Homo sapiens: one gene and its partners. The protein of the gene in region 2 interacts with the protein of the main gene of each other region in a pairwise test. Each region holds a gene or a part of one and is shown on either strand. Other genes may lie near its edges.

Region 1 (3,500 bases), about 210 Mb from region 2:
CCTTTTTTATCAATTTATGGCAGATTAATTTAACAACAGATTGTCACCATTTTAATTATGTTCTTCTACATCTCTATCATTGTGATTTATTGGCCTACAGCAACAGTAACCTTCCTAGAAAGTTTGCATTTATTGAGGACCCGTCATGTGTCAGGCACATTCTGAGCACTATATATGTATTAATTCATCTAATCCTTGATGAAGCTAGGAAATATGTGTTATTACTATTATCTCTATTTTACAGGAGAATTGGGAAACAGAAAGGTAAACTAATTTGTCTTAACAATTCACATAACTAGAAGCTAGTGGAGCAGGAATTTGCTATTAGACAGTCTGCCTCAAGAGCCTGTGCTCTTCAGTGCTACACTCTACTGTTTGTCCACATAATGATGTCATCTTTCCAGGCCTATCATAGGCTACCTTTGCAAACTGGTCTCTGACTCCCCCCAAGATAATATTCGTCATCCCTTCTCTGTGGCCCTACAGCACTCTGAAAATATATCTAGCCCAGCATTTATCACATAAATAATAGACAGACAGATAGTATCTATCTCCTTGTCTGTTGTCCCACTAGACTGGGAATTCCTTAAGGAAAGGCACTGTCTCTTCAACTCTGAAACCGAAGTACCACACAGAATACCCAGCACTTCATTGAATGCTTACTGAATGTTTGCTGGATGAATAAGTTACTACTATCACGGACATAATTATACTTTAGCAACAAAATACCATCAGGCTAGCAAGCTAATTATAAGGCATACTGCTTCTAGAACATTCTAGCCTCCAGCCAACCTTCCACAAGAGACTGCCTTCTTTTTCTCCTTTGGACCTTCCCTGGATGGCAGTCTCTTTCCCATTCCGTCCATCCCATCCCACTCTACCTGTGATGTCTTCTCCTAATGCCAGGGCTATCCTTTCTCCCTTTCCAAACAGATATCTAGGGGAATGGCACTGTGCCTAAGCCAACAAATAATGATAATGATAATAAAATTAATAGCTAATACTTGTTTAGTGTTTATTATGAGCCACCCATGGTTCTCAGCATTTTCTATACAGTAACTTATTACTCCAAGTTCCATCACAGATGGACTCTAGGGCATCAAAGGGCTGTTACCTGCCTGGTCAGCATGAAGCCAAAGGATGCAAGGGTTAGAGAACTTCAGAGGACCTCCAAGGGGACCACCACCTTCTTCCGTATGTTGACGATGGAGAAATTCACTATGAGAGATTCCTGTTTCTTCAAAAACTTGCAAGCTCCTAAGTAATTTAAAAGGGGAGGGAGGGGGCACACCCATAAAAACCAATAGAAAATATTCATTCTCAAGTAAAACAAGGAGAAAGGCTGTTTATTACAGAAAGCCTCTTTCTTGAAAGCCAGTCACGACAGTGTGCACATCTGTAGTCCCAGCTACTCAGGAGGCCAAACTGGGAGGACTGCTTGAGCTCAGGAGTTCAAGACCAACCTAAGCAGCAACAGACCCTGTCTCTTCAAAAAGGGGGCATGCAGAAAGGCTTATTCTCATTTTCACTGCATTAAGTTCCAAAAGACATGAAGGTCTAGGGTTACTCCAGTCCTACAGCTACTCAGAAAAGGGTACTAAAGAAAACTTTAGGTAAAGTAAGAAATAATATTATTTTTCTAAAGATATATAAATTATTCTGAAATCAGTTAAATAGGTTCAGAAACAACAGGTTTCTTCTACACAAACAGAATGGTACTCACTCACTTTCAGATAAACAGTAAAAGAGCTTGTTTGGGACACTTTGTAACAAGCCAACAAGTCTGGTCTGGCTGGCGTGCCTTTCCCACAGTACAAAAGCATGTTGTACATCCAGCTCATCAGCTTTCTTTTTAAATATGTCAAATTAATGAAGAATGCTCCTGGCTAATCCAGTGCTCTACTGGCACAAAGATCACTGAGAAAAGAACTCACATACTTATTCTTAAGCCACCATCCACTTCTGTCCGTATCTATTATGTTATGCAGCACTAGGTAATTTAACTCCCAAATCTACACTCTACCACTCTGGGTGATTGCAACTTATCAGCCTGAAAGTGATCTTTCTCTTCCTGACCCAATTCTACTTCCTGAAACCCTAACGCAAGAGTGTAGACCCCCTTGTCTTTCAGTATCACTGGTTTCTCAAAGAAGATCTATGAGAAAAAATGTAGTAATAGATATCTCACTTATCTGGAGTTAAAATACAGCCTCAAGCCAAAAGAAAGATTAAAAAAAAAGAAAGTCCTCATTCTCTAAATGAGACTCTAGAGCTCTTGCTTAGAACCTATTGACTCTTACTAAGAAAAAATTCTCAAACTCATTACTCGTTTAGACGCAGCAAAATGAGAAGTGATAAGAAAGAACTGATTAGTAAAAGGAGAGAATAAACACCAAGCTCTAGAATCATGTAATAAAACAATATAAAAATGAATGTTTATCATAATGTTCCTAGGTTTAAAAAAAATTGAATGTTTTCTATTAAAGTGTTTAAAATGTTTGGATACTGAAAAGTATAAACTTCATTAATCTAAAACATGCATTCTTAATGAGGTTATACATTGCCTTTAAGGGGGTGAAAAAACTTAGATATTACAATTTGTGCCCCACCCCCCTGCCGTGCAAAGGACAACCCTACCTGAAGAAATCCTTTTCTTGGCTGAGTACTGTGGCTCATGACTATAATCCCAGCACTTCGGTAGGCTGAGGCAGGAGGATCGCTTGAGCCTAGGAGTTTGGAACCAGCCTGGGCAACACAGCAAAACATCTCTAAAAAAAATTAAAAATTTAAAAAACTAGCCAGGTATAGTAGTGCACACCCGTAGTCCCAGCTACTCAGGAGGCCGAGGCAGGAGGACATCTGAGCCCAGGAGGTCAAGGCTGCAGTGAGCCATGATTGTGCCACTGTACTCCAGCCTGGGCAACAAAGTAAGACTCTATCTCTTAAAAAAAAAAAAAAAAAGTAATAATAATAATGAATGTTTTAAATCCTATATTCTAACATTAAGTTTCACTGAGGGGGGTAAAATTAGGAGGAAAAATATCAAATTCATTTGAGTGGAATACTTCACAACCCCTATGAATATGAGATGTTACTTTAATATTTAATCTGTATAACCATCAATAGAACAGGTCCTTCATTAGATGTTCTACTATGCTGGAAGTGGTATCACTCCTAATACTGCAGAAAAATAAACCTAACATGAGGCTGCAATTCCAAAACAACCTAAAAAAACATGACCTTGTGAGTTCATTCACTACCTCTCTTCCCTACCAGATAGTTTCCATGTGCAAAGGTGAGCTGATCTGTGAGACAGTTAATAAAATCCACCTCCCACTGGGAAAGCTGCTGGGGCAGAACACGGCATTGCATAATCAGTTATGAAACCCAAATCACAATGTAAACAAACTGCATGCCAGAAAAAATGTATATGAAAACTGTTATACAAGCAAAGATCAAATAGAAAATGAAGCAACATTATATAGGCCCTAGGGGAAAAC
Region 2 (3,500 bases):
AATGAAATCACCTCATGATGTCCTTAAGGGATGCACATCTCTACTTCCTTAGGCTCCAGAAACAATGGTTACCAAGTTTTACATGATTTCCTTTGCTCTAGAGCTGTTTTGATTAGTAGCTTTAGTTCTGTATACTTGTTTTTGTTAATGGAGAAAGGTGAACCTGCTTCATGGCTTATCTTACCTTTTTCCTCTCATTAAGGAATGGCTTCTGGTTTTTCCGTGTTGTGCCTGGAAAAGAAAATGAAGTATGTAAGTTGTAGAAAGAGTAAATGGCAATGAAATTATAACCTGAAATCACTTTTTTTTTTTTTTTTTTTTTTTTAAGATGGAGTTTTGCTCTTGTTGCCCAGGCTGGAGTGCAATGGTGTGATCTTGGCTCACCACAACCTCCGCCTCCCAGGTGCAAGCGATTCTCCTGCCTCAGCCTCCTTAATAGCTTGGATTACAGACCACGCCTGGCTAATTTTTGTATTTTTAGTAGAGATGGGGTTTCACCATGTTAGTCAGGCTGGTCTCAAACTCCTGACCTCAGGTGATCTACCCGCCTCAGCCTCCTTAAGTGCTGGGATTACAGGCGTGAGCCGCTGTCCCCGGCCTGAAATCACTTATATTGTCCTTCTGCCGTTGCATGCATTTTTAATTTGATGGAGGTAGAACAGGTTGGTTGACAATTGGGTATGAGTTATGTGTATTTCCCGTTTGCTTTGGTGAGTGCAGCACATAAAATTCCATTGTTATGATTGTATTTGTAAACCTTCTCACTCCCTAGTGTAGTGCTCTAAGTCTAATCTTTTTTATATCCCCAGGGCCTACCACATGGGAGATGTTAATCATTCAAGGATTAATATTTTGGGGAACTTGAAGTCGCTGTATGTTTGTCTTTGGTTTTCTCAAGTTCCAAGTTGCCTGCAGCTTCCATATCAAGAGTTACTTCTGGCAAACTCTAATGATAGTTTCTTCTGTAGGGTAAAGAGAATAGCTCATCTGGCATTAAGGCTGAGAATGAGGCTTAGTGCCTCCCAGGAGGAAGGAGGATGACTTGGAAGTAGACGTGTCATCCCTTTCAGTCCTGGTGGATTGTGGGCAGCGGGGGGACAGAGGTAGGGAAAACAGATTGTGAGAAATATGTGTTCTGATCTTTCTTGGCTGGCTAAAGTTCTAGGGTTAGGGTGGGGATGTTAAATGGGTTGAGGGGACGGTCAGCAGTAGAAGGCCTTTTGCTCTGCTCCTTATGTGGAATCTTGAGAGGAGATGTTATGCAGGTTAGTGATAGGCCAACACGGGCCTATAGCACAGCAGTGGTAGAAGGAAGTGGCTAGATAGTTGAGTTTGTGGTACCAGGGGATTCTGAAATGCTCTCATACCACTGTGAAGGAGGTGGAGGAGCTTATTGGCCTGGTGGAACAGCTGGCGTCATGACAAAAGACTGTGTGACTATAGACTGAATGTCAGGATCACAGACTCCAGGGATGAGAGCCAGCATGACATCCTAAAAGATGAGATGGGACCAGTTCAGCCATAGGACCTGATTACCTCCTTGCAGCAGAGACCAGTGAGGATCCAGAGAAACAACACAGATCCAAGGTCTTCTTGCCACTATTTCTTCTAGGATGTCCGATAAGACCTTGGAGGGAAATCTACCCGAAAGCAGCCATTTAAACCAGCCCGGGTAAGGAGTTAAACAAAGTCTGAGTATTAACTGGAAGAGATTGAGATATTGTTTGACAAGTTTTAAATTTCCTGGATATTTATTAGAGTAGATATTCATGAGGAATATTAGATTAATTATAGAAAAAATGGCGCATATTCAGGAGACAGATTAGATGAGTTATAGAAGATAAAGCAGGCTGGGCATGGTGGCTCATGCCTGTAGTCCCAGCACTTTGGGAGGTCGAGGCAGGTGGATCGCTTGAGCCCATAAGTTCAAGATGAGCCTGTGCGACATGGCAAAACCCTGTCTCTACTAAAAATACAAATAATTACCTGGGTGCATGCCTGTAGTCCCAGCTACTCAGAAGGCTGAGGTGGGAGAATCAATTGAGCCCAGGAGGTGGAGGTTGCAGTGAGTGGTGATCACGCCACTGCACTCCAGCCTGGGTGACAGAGTGAGACCCTGTCTCAAAAAAAAAGAAAAAAAAAAAGGCAGCTGCATTTGAGTTGCAGTGTGAGTAAATGTGACCAGGCAATAAAGGGTAATAACTCACTGTGTTTGGTGAGATGATGGAATGTCTCTTGGCCAAGGACTGAACCTGGGGTGGAGATGGAAGGGAACATCTTCATATATGAGGGTAAGAAGAAGAGGTGCCAGAAAAGGCAACAGCAGTGGTGATTGAAAAGTTTAAGGACCGCTAGGGAAGTGGTTGCTAAGTGACTCAGCCTTAGGAGAGATTGGAAATAGTCTTCTAGGAGAGAAGCATAAATTGCCTCGTGAAATGTAGGATTGTTGAAAAGTGCTGAGGGTCTACTTAAAACTTGTGTTTGTTTATTTAAAGTGGGAACAGTTAGTTGGGTCATGTTTCCTTTCTCTCCCAATTGCCAGCTGCTTGGCTATGAGAACTGGATTTACCTAGGATTGCTAGGTTAGCATGATGGACGGAGAGAGGGGACGGGAAGTTGAAGTTGTAGGCAAGGGAGGGTGTAATTGTGGATCATGGTTTCTCAGGTAGGGAATGAGGTCGTAAGGAAGGTGATGGCCAGTGAAATGTGGCCGAATCAATGGATTAGAGGTCCTCATGTGGTCAGAGAAATGGTGAGTGGTCAGATAATGGGTTGACTTGATATGTACATGCTTAGAAGTAGTGTGTGTCTTGATACAACAGGTACGGGGTGTGGCAGAATGTGGCCAAGGTAGGGAGTAAGAAAAGATTTTTGGTCAGGAAACCCAAAGGCTGAGGTTAGTTGAATTATCTAAATAATGAAGTTACTAAGAATGTTAGACATTGGCATGAATAGTTTCAGCAAAGGCAGAATTCTCACATTGGCTAAAATAACCCAAGGTTTAAGGGTCAGTAGAGTAGAAGAGGCTAGTGGAGACAAGGAAGCACTTACCTCTGTGAAAATAATGTAAAAAGACGTTACTGGGTTTACGGCTGATTTTGTAAAATATGGTTAGCACCAGGCGTAAGTGAATTGCTGCAGTGTTACAGACTCTTCCTTGGAGGCCCTGAAGGTCAAGCAACTAGCAAAATCATTTCAAAGAGCAGAACCTTGAACGATGGCTTGAAGTAGGATTTGCAACTTCCTGGGCAGTGGCTAATGGGTCTAGGATTTGAAATAAGGTGGAAGAATTGATAATAATGTGGTTTGGGAAAGGACTTTATGGATGTGACTACATTTTTCTTTTTAAGTGGGAGTCATAATTCCTGTTTCTTCTACTGCTTCCTTTTCTTCTGTAACGAGGTTTGGGAAAGGGCTTTATGGCTGAGCCCTGGTGAAAACATTTGGTCCATGTGAATGCCACAGCAGAGGGCGTTCTTAATCAGACAGGATGACCTGCT
Region 3 (3,945 bases), on a different chromosome or scaffold from region 2:
AAAAAAATAAATAAAACAAAAAACAATGTCCAACAAAAAAACAAATCCAGCGAGGCCAGACAGGATAGGGGCTCCCTGGGGTCCGCCCATTTTCGGGATCAGGTGACTCGAGGTTTGGTCCTTATTTTAGTGCAGGCTCAGATGTCGGGGGCGAGCCAAAGTGCAGGGGCCTGTGGGAAGGACAGGAGGCTGGGAAACGTTTGGGTAAAAAAATCAGGACACTGGCCGTGCGCGGTGGCTCACGCCTGTAATCCCAGCACTTTGGGAGGCCGAGGCGGGCCGATCACGAGGTCAGGAGATCGAGACCATCCTGGCTAACACGGTGAAACCTCGTCTCTACTAAAAATACAAAAAAATTAGCCGGCGTGGTGGCGGGTGCCTGTGTCCCAGCTACTCGGGAGGCTGAGGTAGGAGAATGGCCTGAACCCGGGAGGCGGAGCTTGCAGTGAGCCGAGATGGCGCCACTGCACTCCAGCCTGGGCGACAGAGCGAGACTCCACCTCAAAAAAAAAAAAAAAAAAAAAAAAAAAAATCAGGACACTGACAGCACGTGCTCCAGCACGGGGCAGGGCCTCCATGGGGTCCGCGCCCACGCGGGGCAGCGCGGTGACGTCACGGCTGAGGACCCCGCCCCACGAAGGGCTCACCCCACGCGACCCACGCCGCTCGCTCGCCCCTCCCCTCCACGCAGCACTCCGGCTGCTCCGTGGGGAAACTGAGTCTGGACTTCTCGTGCCCGTTCGGGAGAAGGACGCGGGAGGCGCGGCCGAGCTGCGGGGAGAGGTTGGGCTCACCCCGGGCCAGAGCGAGTTCGCGCAAACGGGAGTGTCCACCGCTGGCGGGTCAGCCACTAGCGTTGGCTACGCGCCGGTCACTCGGGCGACAGGAGGCGGGGCGGCGCGGAAGTTATCTTCCAATCAGGTGCTCCGGGGGCGGGTCCGGAAAACTGTCCAATCAAGGCACGGGGCGGACACCGGGAAGCGGATTGCAGGTTTGCAGTAGTGTCCAATCGAAGGCCCCAGGGGTGAAGGGGGCGTGTCCAAAACGCTGTCCGCTCAGAGCGTTGAAAGGGCGGGGGCTTAGAGATTGTCCAATCAGGGCGCCGCTTCCTGAGCTCCGAGGCCCCGAGGGCGGGACGTTTCGTCCTCCCTGCCGCGCGTGCCCTGCCTACCACGAGCGGCCCGGGAGTACCTGTACCTTTCAGCTGCGCCGGCCGCGAGGCCACGGAGAGCTCGCCTTGGAGAGCCCAGGAGCAGGGGAGACATGGTGAGTGCGAGGCAGGAGCAGAGCCAGGGGACGGTCGGAGCGACGGGAACCGGCTGGAACCAGAGTCCGCCGAAGTCTGCGGCCGGGATTGGCTGAGGGACGCGCGGGGCGGCGCAGGACTAGCACCTGGGACCCGGGGACGCCATCACAGCGGCCGGGCTGGAGGACTGGGGGCAGTTTGGGGGGACGGAAGGGGCGGCAAGGAGCTTGGGGGTAACTTAGGGGGAGGCCTGGGCAGGAGGGGGGCTGGAGGTAGTTTGGGGGGACGGTAGGGGCGGTCAGGGGTCAGGGACCAGTTTGGGGGGACGGCAAGGGACGGTCAGCAGGTTGGGGATGTTACGCGTGTCCGTATAAGAGGTCACCTGAGCAGGCTTAGTGTGAGCCACAAGGCTGTTTACTCACTTGGGTGCAAGTGGGCTGAGTCTGAGAAAGGACTCAGCAAAGGGTGATGGGATTATTATTGGTTTTATTTTTTTATTTTTTTTATTTTTGGGACGGAGTCCCGCTCTGTCGCCAGGCTGGAGTGCAGTGGCGTGATCTCGGCTCACTGCAACTTCCGCCTCCCGGGTTCAAGCGATTCTCCTGCCTCAGCCTCCGGAGTAGCTGAGATTACAGGCGCCCGCCCTCACGCCCGGCTAATTTTTGTTTTTAGTAGAGACAGGGTTTCACCATGTTGGCCAGAATGGTCTCGATCTCTTGACCTTGTGATCCGCCCGCCTCGGCCTCCCAAAGTGCTGGGATTACAGGCGTGAGCCACCGCGCCCGGCAATCATTAGTCCTTATAGGTTTGGGACAGGCATCGGAGTTAGGAGCAGTTTTTTTGAGGACAGTTGGTGGGTGTTACAAAGTACATTCTCAAGGGCGGCGACGATGTTTCAAAGTACATTCACAAGGGCTTGGGGGATGTATTGTCACAAGGGCTGGGAGGAATATTACAAAGTACCTTCACAAGGGCGCGAGCGTGTATTGTCACAAGGGCGGGGTACATTCACAAGGGCGAGGAGGACGTATCGTACAAAGTACATTCACAAGGGCGGGGGAATATCACAAAGTACATTATCACAAGGGCGGGGGGCTTGACCATGGTGCGGCCAGCTCAGAGAACCTTACAGGGGACAGCTTGGGGGGATGGCAAGGGACGGCCTGGGGGTCAGAGGCAGTTTGGGGGACGACCTCAGCGGTGGGAGTTAGCTGCCCTGGGGGTTTTGTTGCAGGGTATCACTAATGCTGTGAAAGCTTTATTCGGGCAGCCGGTGTCAGTAAATGTACTGTACTGTTCTCCTGTTTGGCTTTTTTCTTCTCCTTAGTGACAATAGGAAAATGTTCAAGTGTGTTTTCTGCCTTCTGGTCCGTCAGGATAACACCTGTTTATCGTGGGGTACAGGCTAAGCATGGCCTAAGGAAGTCTCTCAGGAATATTCTGTCTCCCACCAGAATTGTAGAGAAAGTGTGCGCAGTTCCACATCTTATAGCAGCTAGAGATGGATTAAAATGTTCATAAAAATAGTAGTTTTTCAAATGCCAAAGCAATCAGACAAAAAATAATAGTTATTCTTCCATACAAGGTGCAGAGTTTGCGACAGTGTGTGATCGTGTTCCATTTCAGTTCAGCTAGACATGAGATTAATGCAAATTCTGCAAAAACCTGTAAAACTGAGGCGTGTTCCATTCTGGTTAGTTTCCAGTTTGTCACCAGGAGTATTGCTTCACTGATCCATCATCTGTTTGCTGACTGGGAAAAGCAGTTTCTGGCCATGTAAAGTCATAAAGACTGCCTTGGAACTCCCTTCCCCCACTTACACAAGGGGTGGAAAGCACTGATTCTGCTGCATTCTCACTCTACGGGATGAGGGTCTTTGTGGCATTTAAAGTGTAGCACCTGGAGCAGGGAGGTGAGCCCCAAGACCGGTGACTCCAGCTGAGCCCACAGTTGAGCCTGCACTGGAGGCCGCTGAGGGTGCAGCGGGGTCTGGCTGGGCAGCCTCCACTTGCTCAGTCCTCCTGCCTCGTAGAACAGCCGCAGCGGGAACTGTTCATGCTGATTGAGGCTGCTGAGCATGGGAAAGACGATTGTCCTGGAGATGTGCTTGTGGGCGTTTTAGCCTTTCTGAGGTTGCACCTGTGCTGTCTTGGAGCCGTTTCTAAGCAGTGGGTTTAGTTTATGCTTTAAGTGTTGTTTTTCTTTTTTGGAGACACTGTGTCTCCCAGGCTGGAGTACAGTGGCGTGATCTCCACACATTGTATCATCCGCCTCCCGGGTTCAAGCAATTCTCCTGCCTCAGCCTCCCGAGTAGCTGGGATTACAGGCACTTGCCACCACGACCGGCTAATTTTTATATTTTTAGTAGAGACGGGGTTTCGCCATGTTGGCCAGGCTGGTCTCAAACTCCTGACCTTAAGTGATCCACCCTCCTCCGCCTCCCAAAGTGCTGGGATTTCAGGCGTGAGCCACCGCGCCCGGCCTGGATTAAGTTTTAATATAAACACCAGTGGCCTTACTGCCCGCATAAATAGGCCTCCGGCCTCTCTTCAACACCTGTGTGCTGCTCCCAGCGCTCATCTCTGTTCTGCCCCCAGGGTAACCACTGTCCTGATTTTTTTTTTCATTCTCTCTACCTTTACCATTTATTATTTATCACCATACAGAGTTTTAATTTTGCCTCCTTTGAATTTTTTTTT
Region 4 (3,500 bases), on a different chromosome or scaffold from region 2:
GGTATGAGGAATTGCTGAAGGTTTTCCCACAGTCACTGCATTCGTAGGGTTTCTCCCCATTGTGGATTCTCTTATGAACAGTAAGGTAAGATCTGCTGCTGAAGGTTTTCCCACAGTCATTGCATTCATAGGGTTTCTCCCCATTGTGGATTCTCTTATGAACAGCAAGGTAAGATCTACTGCTGTAGGATTTCCCACATTCACTGCAGCCATAGGGTCTTTCTCCAGTATGAATCTTCCTGTGCCGTGTAAGGGAAGATTTTGTGCTGAAGACTTTAAAACACTGATTACATTCGTTGAGTGTTGCTCCAAGATGATTCCTCTCCTATTGATTAAGAGATGACAATAAGTACCATTTATAATATTTTTAACATTGAATGCTGTCAGAGGAATTTCCTCTCCCAGGAATTCTGTTGTGTATCATAGTATTGGAATTAATGTTTTTGCCATCATGAGTGCTGGTACATGGCTTCTGTCAGTTTGAATTCTTAGCATTTAAAGAAGATGGATTCTTTCTACAAATCTTTATCATATTCACAGAGTATTTTTGATAAATTTAAGGCTAATTTCTTTTTCAAATATCCAATATCTGACTCAGACTACTGGAAATATTTACTTGTGGGAATTCTCAGGAAAAACAAGTTTGGGGCTAACTAATGCTTTTCTCCAAATTCAAAATAATTTCACAGTATCTCTCCAGAGGTACTACTTTATCTTTGAAAAAAATGACACTTTCCTTTAATAACTATTTAATAAAGCCACTTTTTTTTTTTTTTTTTTTGAGACAGAGTCTTGCTCTGTCGCCAGGCTGGAGTGCAGTGGCACAATCTCGGCTCACTGCAAGCTCCACCTCCAGGGTTCAAGTGATTCTTCTGTTTCAGCTTCCCAAGTATTTGGGATTACAGGTGCGCATCACCACACCCAGCTAAGTTTTTTTTGTATTTTTAGTAGAGATGGGGTTTCACCGTATTGGCCAGGCTGGTCTCCAACTCCTGACCTGACCTCATGATCCAACTGCCTCAGCTTCCCAAGGTGCTGGGATTAAAGGCATGAGCCACTGTGCCTGGCCAACAAGGCCAGTCCTTGTGGCTTTTCTCATGTAGGGCATTCTACCATGAAAAAAACCAGGAATCACCCATGTTAGTCTTACCATTTTCATATTTCTAGATTGTTCTTTTCGAAAAACATGCAGCTTAGGAGTTAACCCTTTGGCTTTAAATGGATTCTCCACATCTGAAACAAGTTAAAAAGAAATTTAAGTTGATAGAAAAGAGGCAAATTTTAAGTTGATGGTGAAATAGTAAAATGCATACGTGAGTGAAGGCAGAATCTGAGAGGTGAGGGTTTTTGAGAAGGCATTCGGTGAAAGAGATATGGGTGTGAAAATTTTAGGCAATGTTTAAGAAAGACTCTAGGAAGATTGAGATTGATGTTGACAGAATGAAGGAATTGTCAGGAAGGCAAGGTGGACTGAAACTGATCAAAGAGCTCATAGGAGACTTAAATTTCAGAAAAAGAGATGTCTTTTTTTCTCCCCTGAGGCCCAAGTAAAGTATGAGATGACAGAAAGTTGGAAGTCATGAAGGTACATGAGGGGGCTCAGACCAAACGTTCTTGGCCTTCTTGGGAAAAGGGGCATTTACACAGTTCTCTGACTGATATTTCCTAATGTATTATAATACTCCCAACTTCTCAGTCCCTGGCCAGAGCTGTTCCTCACAAGGACTTATATCCACCTGGTGCTCACCTGGACAGGTACCTGAGAGAATTCCTCTCTCTTCTGTCATCACTTTATCTTCTTGCTCCAGCTGGGAGATCAGCCTAGGTTTATCAACTTGGTTCCCTGTACATGGAGAAAAGACACATGATGTAGGGGGACTGTGCAGCAGACAAGCTCTCCCATGAAACTGAAATCAGTTCTGAAGGTGAAGAGGTGTGACTTCAGGAGCAGAGAAATAATTATGCCAAAATTGAATAAATATAGCAACCGTCTTAAACACTCACACACACACACACACACACACACACACACACACACACACACACACACACCCCACAAGCAATATCTAGGGTGGTTGCAGGATAACTGGTCCCAGGAGCCCCTGTCCAGGTTTAAATACAGAATCTGAAAGCCCAAAAGATTTAACTACAGAGAATATATAGTCAGGGAAAGAAGGAGATCTTCATTTCATACAGATAGCATTAGACAGACAGCTCCATGAGGGTGGGGGGCATGTCTGTTGCATTCTTCACTACTCCCACATCCCAGCACAGACCTAGGAACAGAGGTGCTTATGAAGGACTTAAACGAAGTAATGTCAGTGAAGGTAGTGGAGTAGGGAACTCCACAACTCCATCCCTTCACAAAAACAGTATGTAAATGGGCAAACACAGAATCAACTTCATTGGAGCTCTTGAATGTCATCAAAAGTTTACAGCCACAGGAGAATGCCTAATCAAGACAAACAGCTGAATCTGGGTAAGAGAGATTTGTGACATTTTAACTGACTCTAGCTGCACACTCTATTCCCCATTTTGCCTTGAGGACAACAACCTGTGTTTCTAGTGCTGAAGGGAACAGAATGCACCTTATTCTCAAAAACCTGTGGCTGTTCTCTTCTGACCTGTCTGCTGGCTCCCTGATGGGCTGGATCAAAGGGCTTCCCTTTATTTGTGTAACTCCAAACTCTCCCAGGTCTGAAGAGGCTACACCTATGGAAGCTGGAGGGTGGAGAGGGAAGTGTGTCCCAACACATCTAAAGGCAAATCAGCCACTGCTCAATGGGGCAAGGGAAAACTGTGAAGCAAACAAAAGACTAACCAAAAAACCTGGGAGGAGAAGTTGGGAACAAGATGCTCTGAGGAGTAGAGCATCTTTCCACACCTTCTTTTCCCCCACAAGATGGAGTCTTGCTCTGTCGCCCAGGCTAGAGTGCAGTGGTGTGATCTCGGCTCACTGCAACCTCCACCTCCTGGGTTCAAGCAATTCTCCTGCCTCAGCCTCCCAAGTAGCTGGGATTACAAGCATTTGCCACCACGCCTGGCTGATTTTTTTGTATTTTTAGTAAAGATGTGGTTTCACCATCTTGGCCAGGCTGGTCTCCAACTCCTGACCTCAGGTGATCCGCCCACCTCAGCCTCCCAAAGTGCTGGGATTACAGGCATGAGCCACTGCGCCCGGCCTCCACACATTTCTAGAAGGCCATGCTCATACCCAGGGATGAACACATGCTCAGAGAAGATCTGAGAAGGCACCAAGCCCTCACCTTTGACTGACCTTCAGGCTCTGCATAAGAAGGAACTGAAGGCTAAGTCAGAGTTGTAAGATGCTTTAGCTGAGTTTTGAAGGCATGCTCCAACATGTAATTCAGATCCATTGGCAAAGACTGGTCATCTTTTGGGTTCCAGGTATTTAAAAAAATCTCTGACAAATTAATCCCAAGCTGAACACTAAGCTAACAGAACAGAGACTTCAGTGGCCACACATGACCAATACAGAC
Region 5 (4,211 bases), on a different chromosome or scaffold from region 2:
AAGTCTACTGAGTACCTGTTGCAGCCACTGCGAAAACTCAGAATGGACCCCCACCCAAGATCTGGTTTGGATGTTAAGACAATTACTACATTTACACACACACACACACACACACACACACATACACACATACACACCTTGAGAGGGTATGAAGAGGTTTATTTCATACACAATGAGACTTCTCTGGGGAAAGAAGGGCAGTCCTCTCAAGCTGATCTGAAAATGACTTGAGAAAACAGTGAAAAGAGACAGGTCTTAGGGTTTCATTGTGGTTAGGGGGTAGGCTGGTGTGAGCCTTCCTGCATGAAGGTTGAGGTTTGTGTGATTTGAATCTCCCCTGGCACCAAAGGTGGGAGCACTCTGGCTTTTTTTTTTATCATACTGCCCAGATTAAGGGTACAAGAAAAGACAAGAGTGAACCTTAAAAGCTTTTAGTAGTAAAACATCAAATAATGCAGTCATATTCTTTTTTTTTTTTTTTTTTTTTTTTTTTTTTTTTTTAAGAGACAAGGTCTCGCTCTGTTGCCCAGGCTCGAGTGCAGTGGCTCAATCATAGCTTACCGGAATCTGGAACTCCTGAGCTCAAGCAATCCTCCCGCCTCAGCCTCTCGAGGAGCTGGGACTACAGGCATGTGCCACTGGACCAGATTAAATTTTTTATTTTTCTATTTAGTTTTTGTAGAAATGAGGTCTTGCTATATCTCCCGGGCTGGTCTTAAATTCCTGGCCTCAAGCAATCCTCCCACCCCTGCCTCCCAAAGTGTTGGGATTACAGGTGTGAGACACAGAGTCCAGCAATAACTTGTTTTGTTTAGTCAGGAAAGCAATAGAGACCTCACAAATATTTAGCCTTCTGACACAAGCTTGTAAAAAAACAGTTCCTTAAAAATTATCAAGATCATATGCATAAGGAAGGCTGTGGGAGACAAAGGAGTATTTCTTTAGGAGATATAATGTTTCATCTATCAGACTAGCAAAAATTGCAAAGAATTATGGTATTCAGTATGGCCCAGGATTTGAGAAGTTAGGCAATTGCATACAGTCAATGGAAAATAAAAATTGCATATTCATACTTCTTTTTCCAAAAGTAACACATTCATATAAACAATTTAAGTGTGCATGTCCTTTGACTCAGCAATTCTACTCCTAGGAATTTATTCTGAGTAAACAATCAGATAATTGCAAAATGTACAACCACACAATCAATACATGCACACAAACACGCAAGAATGTTCACTGAAGCACTGGCTGAAAGAAAAAAGTTTGGCAGCAACCTATAAACCCAACTATTGAGATTTAAGTAAACTATTGTATCCTCCTATGACAAAATATAGCCATAAAAGGAAGATTCAAAGTATTTCATGGTACAGGAAAGTCATTCACATTATATGTTAAAATCAAAAGCACATAAAAGAGTATTATACTATTATTCCATTGTTGTTCATTAAATAGTTGTAAATACATAGGAAAATGACCAAAATAATATAAATACACTAAATTTTTACAGTACAGCTGGTGTGATATTCTGGGTTATTTTTATTTTCATCTTAGTTCTCTTTAATTTTCTATATGTTTTTTACTAAATTGGAATCTCAGAGATTTTGAAGGCAAATGATCAGTGGTAAAATAATGCTACTACGTATAAATTCATTCTACAAATTGGGCTAACCAGATGGAAAATGGGTCACCACAGAAAGTATTATAATTCATAAGAATAATTATAATATCATACAAATTTATTAGACAATCAAATACCATAAAATATTTGTGACTGGAAATTGAATAAAACTTAAAAGACATTAATAAAGGTCTGTTCCTTAAAGTGCTCAGACATTTAAAAGATACTTTCAAGACAAAAACATCTACTACAAGGAGGATTACTAGTCTCTTCAGGCCGTAGTGAAAATGGAGTACATCATCATCAAATAACAACGTCAGCTAAAAATACAGAGCCTGTTTATTGTGTACGGACCAACTGTGCAAGCAATTTGTACAATACTTTGGTGTTAACTCCAATTTGGATACGAATTACTCATTTTCACAAACTTAAATTGGATTACACTTTATCTTTCCCAATTACTGAAAACATTTACTTAACACATACACATTTGGAACTTAACTTCGATGAAGTAAAAATACGAAAAGTTAATCTCTACTTCCAAAAATGTCGATGCACGCTGCAATTGTATTTCATTTCTTTCGCAAAATTTTGCACAGGATATTGTTGTTAATTGTTAGTAGAGGAATTCAGAAATGACTAGATCCTTTAGTTGAGGCAAGCAGGTATGTTCCCCGTGTTCTAGCCCTGCACTTAAGAGTCAATGAAAGAAAGTTTAAAAAAGAAAGCATTGTCTCCTCTGGAGACCCCGTCTGCCACGACCACATACCTTGATTCTTGCTTTCTCTATAAATTCTAGAGGGGCTTTCCCAAACTCAAATCCAACTCCAATCCAAGGAATCCAGCCCTTGATGCACGGGGGTCTACGCAAATTCTTCCGCTGAAGGAGTAAGAACAGAGCAAGGCAACCCAGGATTATAATCACTGTTGGGGAAATTAGTTCCATGTTTTTGTCCAGCACCTTCCAGAAGCAGAAAAGTGTGAAACAGTCCTGCCGTCCCTTGCTTCTTTTCTGTGGGCTACGGAACCTGTCGGGACTCCCAACCTTTCTGCTGCAACTTTTGCAGCTCTCCTTCGTAACTGTAGCTTCCTTCCTCTGTCCCAGTTTTCAGGTGATTTTTCCATTGTCGCTCCCTCCCACCTCCACTTCTCTTTGAATCTCAGCCAGCGCGGAAAAAATGCAAGGAGGGGCAGGGCCGGGCTAGGACTGACGGGCGAGAACCAGCCGCGTTGCCATGGAGGCCGGGGGCGGAGCCGCAGAGGGACCCGCGGCCGGCCAATCAGAGACGTAGCGGAGCCCGGCGGACTACATTGCCCAGTAACCTCCTGGGCTCCGCTGTGTTTTTCTATTCTGGGGTGTAAGGGGCAGCTGGACCACTCCAGCTGGGACTGCTAGGAAGGTTGCGGGTCCACCCGGCCGAGCCGAACGAGGGAAATGGTCCTCACCCGGCCACTCGCCGGTTGAAAAGGGGCCGCCCTGGCAGGGAAGCGGCCGCCGCGGCGCGGTGCAGCGCAGCGGCGAGAAGGAGTGCGTTATCGTCTTGCGCTACTGCTGAATGTCCGTCCCGGAGGAGGAGGAGAGGCTTTTGCCGCTGACCCAGAGATGGCCCCGAGCGAGCAAATTCCTACTGTCCGGCTGCGCGGCTACCGTGGCCGAGCTAGGTACCCGGCTGCCCACGCCTGGGCCTCCCGGGCCAGTGGCACGCGCCGCGCTGGGGGAGGGTGCGCGGGCGGCTTCGCGCCCGGCAGTGCGCATCGGAGAGGTCGCCCCTTCCATGCCCGCCTGGCAGAGGTGGCGGTGGAGGCCAGGCCCGCGGTGGGAGGAGGAGGGATTGAGGTCTCCACGGCCTTTTCCTTCTAATCTCTTCTAATGCTTCCCTTAGGCATGTGCTGTGGTGCTTGAATGTTGTACTTTAAGAAGCTTCGCGAGCTGTCATTCCTCTGTAGGAATCATTTTCCTTTTCATGAGGATGACCTTTTTAAAAACGTAATCTGTTTTCCATCCTTACTGAGATCATCTCTGTGGTTTATAGTCTTACACAGCCACACTGTCATTATCTTGTGGGTCCAAGTTGTGGACCTACCTTGTGGGACTTCCGTTATTAACCTGCCACTCACAGAGCATCGACTACTTGACCTCTTTGAGTGTAATTCATCTATACTGTTTACCTTGCAGGATTCTGAGAAGTCAATAATATATGATTGCTAAACCCAAGGCAGGACACCCATTAGTTGCGACATTTTTATAATTCCTACAATACCAGGGACTGTGGATATATATTTGAAAAGACCCAGTTCTGACCTTCTTACAGGCTGCTGGGGAGACAGAGAAAGACAATTATAATGTGCTACTTGTTATAATGAAGATATTATTAGGTGTCATAAAAGCATAGAAGAGCAGTTACATCTGCCTACATGAGTAAGAAAAAACTTTAAGAGGCCATCTAGAGTGGAATGATGATGCCCTTGAATGAGCAAGTAGCGTTTATTCCAAGGATTTTGTGAGTAGTATACTCATGTGTTTCCTGTGAAGCCTTAACTGTGTATTTTAAGATTACCCTTACATTTTCTTGCCTGTTACAAAAAAATAAAA
Region 6 (2,312 bases), on a different chromosome or scaffold from region 2:
ATACTATAGTACTTGAAGATATGATTTGAAAAAAAATCATGTACCAAATGAAAGGGGCACCATTTCAAGAGCACTAGGACTACATTAAACTTAAATATATTCCCACATTCTTAAAAATGTAACTCAAAACCAAATCTAGTCTTAAAAAAGCTCCAGTAACTAAAACTACATTAACAGGCACGATGAACAGTGTAAACACTGTTAATGGGCACCAAGTTTAACAGGGCAGACAATATTTGCTTCTGCATTCACACTTATTCAATTACATTTTTTAAAAAAATGATGCTGCTTAAACTATTAATGTTTTACCAAAAAAATAATAATTTTAATAAATACAGCAAATGCTAGAAATCTAGCTAGGTTATCATGCAAGGTATAACCAAGACAAACTCAAATTTATAATAAAGGCAACTTGCATTCAAAATGAACTCTACCCTTATATTTTATTAAAAGGGCAAACATCATGAATTAACCCAGCCGCTTACTTGAATTACAAAAGTAACATGATTCAATATGAAAATAAGAAACTGTCTACAAATCTCTGACAGTAATAAATTGCAATATACAATGCATACAGGAGTCATACAGAGCAACAAACTCTCGTACAAAACAAAAATATTTTAATACCTTTAAAATCCAAATTTTTCTTTAAAATCATTCATGAAAAAGATTCTCAAGTCAGAATTAACACCTCAATTAGTCAAGCATCAGGAAGCTACATTACAGCTATTAATATACAAAGATACATCTTTTCACCAGTCTTTCCTTCTGATGTCTCTGTTCCAGAATCATACAGACTCTCATTTCTCTACACTCCCCATTCCATCATTTCTTCAGATCATGAAAACTGAATTTGCTGAACACCAGAAATCTAAGATTAGAAAATTTAAATTGAGCAGAATTAAAGAAAAGGAGATTAAAAGTACCATATGCATATTATAAAAATTCAGTGAATAAAAAGACAATAACAAGTCTAATTCCCATTTCTTGTGTATCTTTCTAGAAATCTCCTATGCAAATATGAACATATGCTTATTTTTAACTATTAAGAGAACACTATATACTGTTATCTACATTGAGAAAACACAATTTTAATAACCTTCTTTATCAGGTCCTTAATAGCATGTTGAAATTAACTATATCAATAGATATAATAAAAAAAAAATTTTTTTTTTGAGACAGAGTCTCACTCTATTGCCCAGGCTGGAGTGCAGTGGTGTGATCTCAGCTCACTGCAACCTCCACCTCCAGGGTTCAAGTGATTCTCCTGCCTCAGCCTCCAAGCAGAGGGGATTACAGGTACACGCCATGACGCCCAGCTAATTTTTGTATTTTTAGTAGAGACAGGGTTTCACCATGTTGGCCAGGCTGGTCTTGAACTCCTGACCTCAGGTGATCCACCCACCTCGGCCTCCCAAGGTGCTGGGATTACAGGCATGAGCCATGGGGCCCTGTCGATACAATCAAATTTTTTAAGCATTTAAAATACAAAGGACTGTACCTGTTGATATGATGTTGTGTAAACCATAACATTTTGTTGTTGACCGTCTGTGGTTATTAAGCCAGCTGGTAACTGGTTAGCTAAAAGAAAAAAAATTAGTTAAAGAGGGAAATGAACTATATCTACTTTCTTGGGTTGTATCTTAAGGTTGTACCATTAATGTCTCATTACAATTCTGCCCGGTATCAATGATGTAGTCTTGGACAAAATAATAAATCCTCCAATTTTCCATTTTAAAAAATGTTCCCTAAAAACCACATTATTTTATATTGCGTTTTTCAATTTTCCTATCTCTAACATGTACCTTAGCTAACTGCCCATGTGTACAAATCTGTAGACAGACTGGATGAAGTTTCTGATTCATGATTAAACTACACTACACCATGAGGTTTGGCTAGGAGCAACATATAACTGAGCAGCATATAGTTTACATATGAGAAATATATATAATGAGAAATTTACTCAACATAGCCCTTTTATTTCACCAATATGACAACATGATACTCAATTTAAAAAAAACTGAGTTGAAATTTATTTAAATCATAAGATTTTATATTACAAACTTTTCCTTAATATTCCTATCTCATATGAATCTTCACCAAAAACTAGGGGCTACAGAACTCAGTCAGAACTATCAGTGAAAGGTTATAATGTCTACAGAATTAAACTTTTCTACACTTATCACTCACTGACTTCAAATAAAAGGGCATGAACTGATAAGAACTATTTAAAATAGTGCTTTGTCAAAATACTCACTGCTGACATTCCAAAAATACCATTAGATACTTAGTATGAATCATTGCTAACAATC

The links.
Region 1: the proteins of SMYD3 (region 2) and TRIT1 interact in a two-hybrid assay, tested with the Homo sapiens proteins (one large-scale study listed by BioGRID and IntAct).
Region 3: the proteins of SMYD3 (region 2) and ZNF57 interact in a two-hybrid assay, tested with the Homo sapiens proteins (one large-scale study listed by IntAct).
Region 4: the proteins of SMYD3 (region 2) and ZNF557 interact in a two-hybrid assay, tested with the Homo sapiens proteins (one large-scale study listed by BioGRID).
Region 5: the proteins of SMYD3 (region 2) and CYP39A1 interact in a two-hybrid assay, tested with the Homo sapiens proteins (one large-scale study listed by BioGRID and IntAct).
Region 6: the proteins of SMYD3 (region 2) and NFYB interact in a two-hybrid assay, tested with the Homo sapiens proteins (one large-scale study listed by BioGRID and IntAct).

What each region holds. Positions count from the first base shown.
Region 1 is NC_000001.11:39,849,005-39,852,504, forward strand, and holds part of TRIT1 (tRNA dimethylallyltransferase isoform 1 precursor), read right to left. Parts: intron 1,258-3,500; coding exon 1,115-1,257; intron 1-1,114. UniProt on the Homo sapiens protein: Catalyzes the transfer of a dimethylallyl group onto the adenine at position 37 of both cytosolic and mitochondrial tRNAs, leading to the formation of N6-(dimethylallyl)adenosine (i6A37).
Region 2 is NC_000001.11:246,500,780-246,504,279, reverse strand, and holds part of SMYD3 (histone-lysine N-methyltransferase SMYD3), read left to right. Parts: intron 1-3,500. UniProt on the Homo sapiens protein: Histone methyltransferase. Specifically methylates 'Lys-4' of histone H3, inducing di- and tri-methylation, but not monomethylation. Also methylates 'Lys-5' of histone H4.
Region 3 is NC_000019.10:2,899,783-2,903,727, forward strand, and holds the start of ZNF57 (zinc finger protein 57), read left to right. Parts: upstream 1-1,145; 5' UTR 1,146-1,263; coding exon 1,264-1,266; intron 1,267-3,945. UniProt on the Homo sapiens protein: May be involved in transcriptional regulation.
Region 4 is NC_000019.10:7,079,703-7,083,202, reverse strand, and holds part of ZNF557 (zinc finger protein 557), read right to left. Parts: intron 1,844-3,500; coding exon 1,748-1,843; intron 1,234-1,747; coding exon 1,151-1,233; intron 326-1,150; coding exon 1-325. UniProt on the Homo sapiens protein: May be involved in transcriptional regulation.
Region 5 is NC_000006.12:46,650,019-46,654,229, forward strand, and holds the start of CYP39A1 (24-hydroxycholesterol 7-alpha-hydroxylase), read right to left. Parts: upstream 2,801-4,211; 5' UTR 2,565-2,800; coding exon 2,388-2,564; intron 1-2,387. Other genes in the region: SLC25A27 (mitochondrial uncoupling protein 4), read left to right, coding at 3,175-3,280. UniProt on the Homo sapiens protein: A cytochrome P450 monooxygenase involved in neural cholesterol clearance through bile acid synthesis. Catalyzes 7-alpha hydroxylation of (24S)-hydroxycholesterol, a neural oxysterol that is metabolized to bile acids in the liver.
Region 6 is NC_000012.12:104,118,899-104,121,210, forward strand, and holds part of NFYB (nuclear transcription factor Y subunit beta), read right to left. Parts: intron 1,582-2,312; coding exon 1,502-1,581; intron 872-1,501; coding exon 839-871; coding exon of another isoform or gene 834-838; 3' UTR 1-833. UniProt on the Homo sapiens protein: Component of the sequence-specific heterotrimeric transcription factor (NF-Y) which specifically recognizes a 5'-CCAAT-3' box motif found in the promoters of its target genes.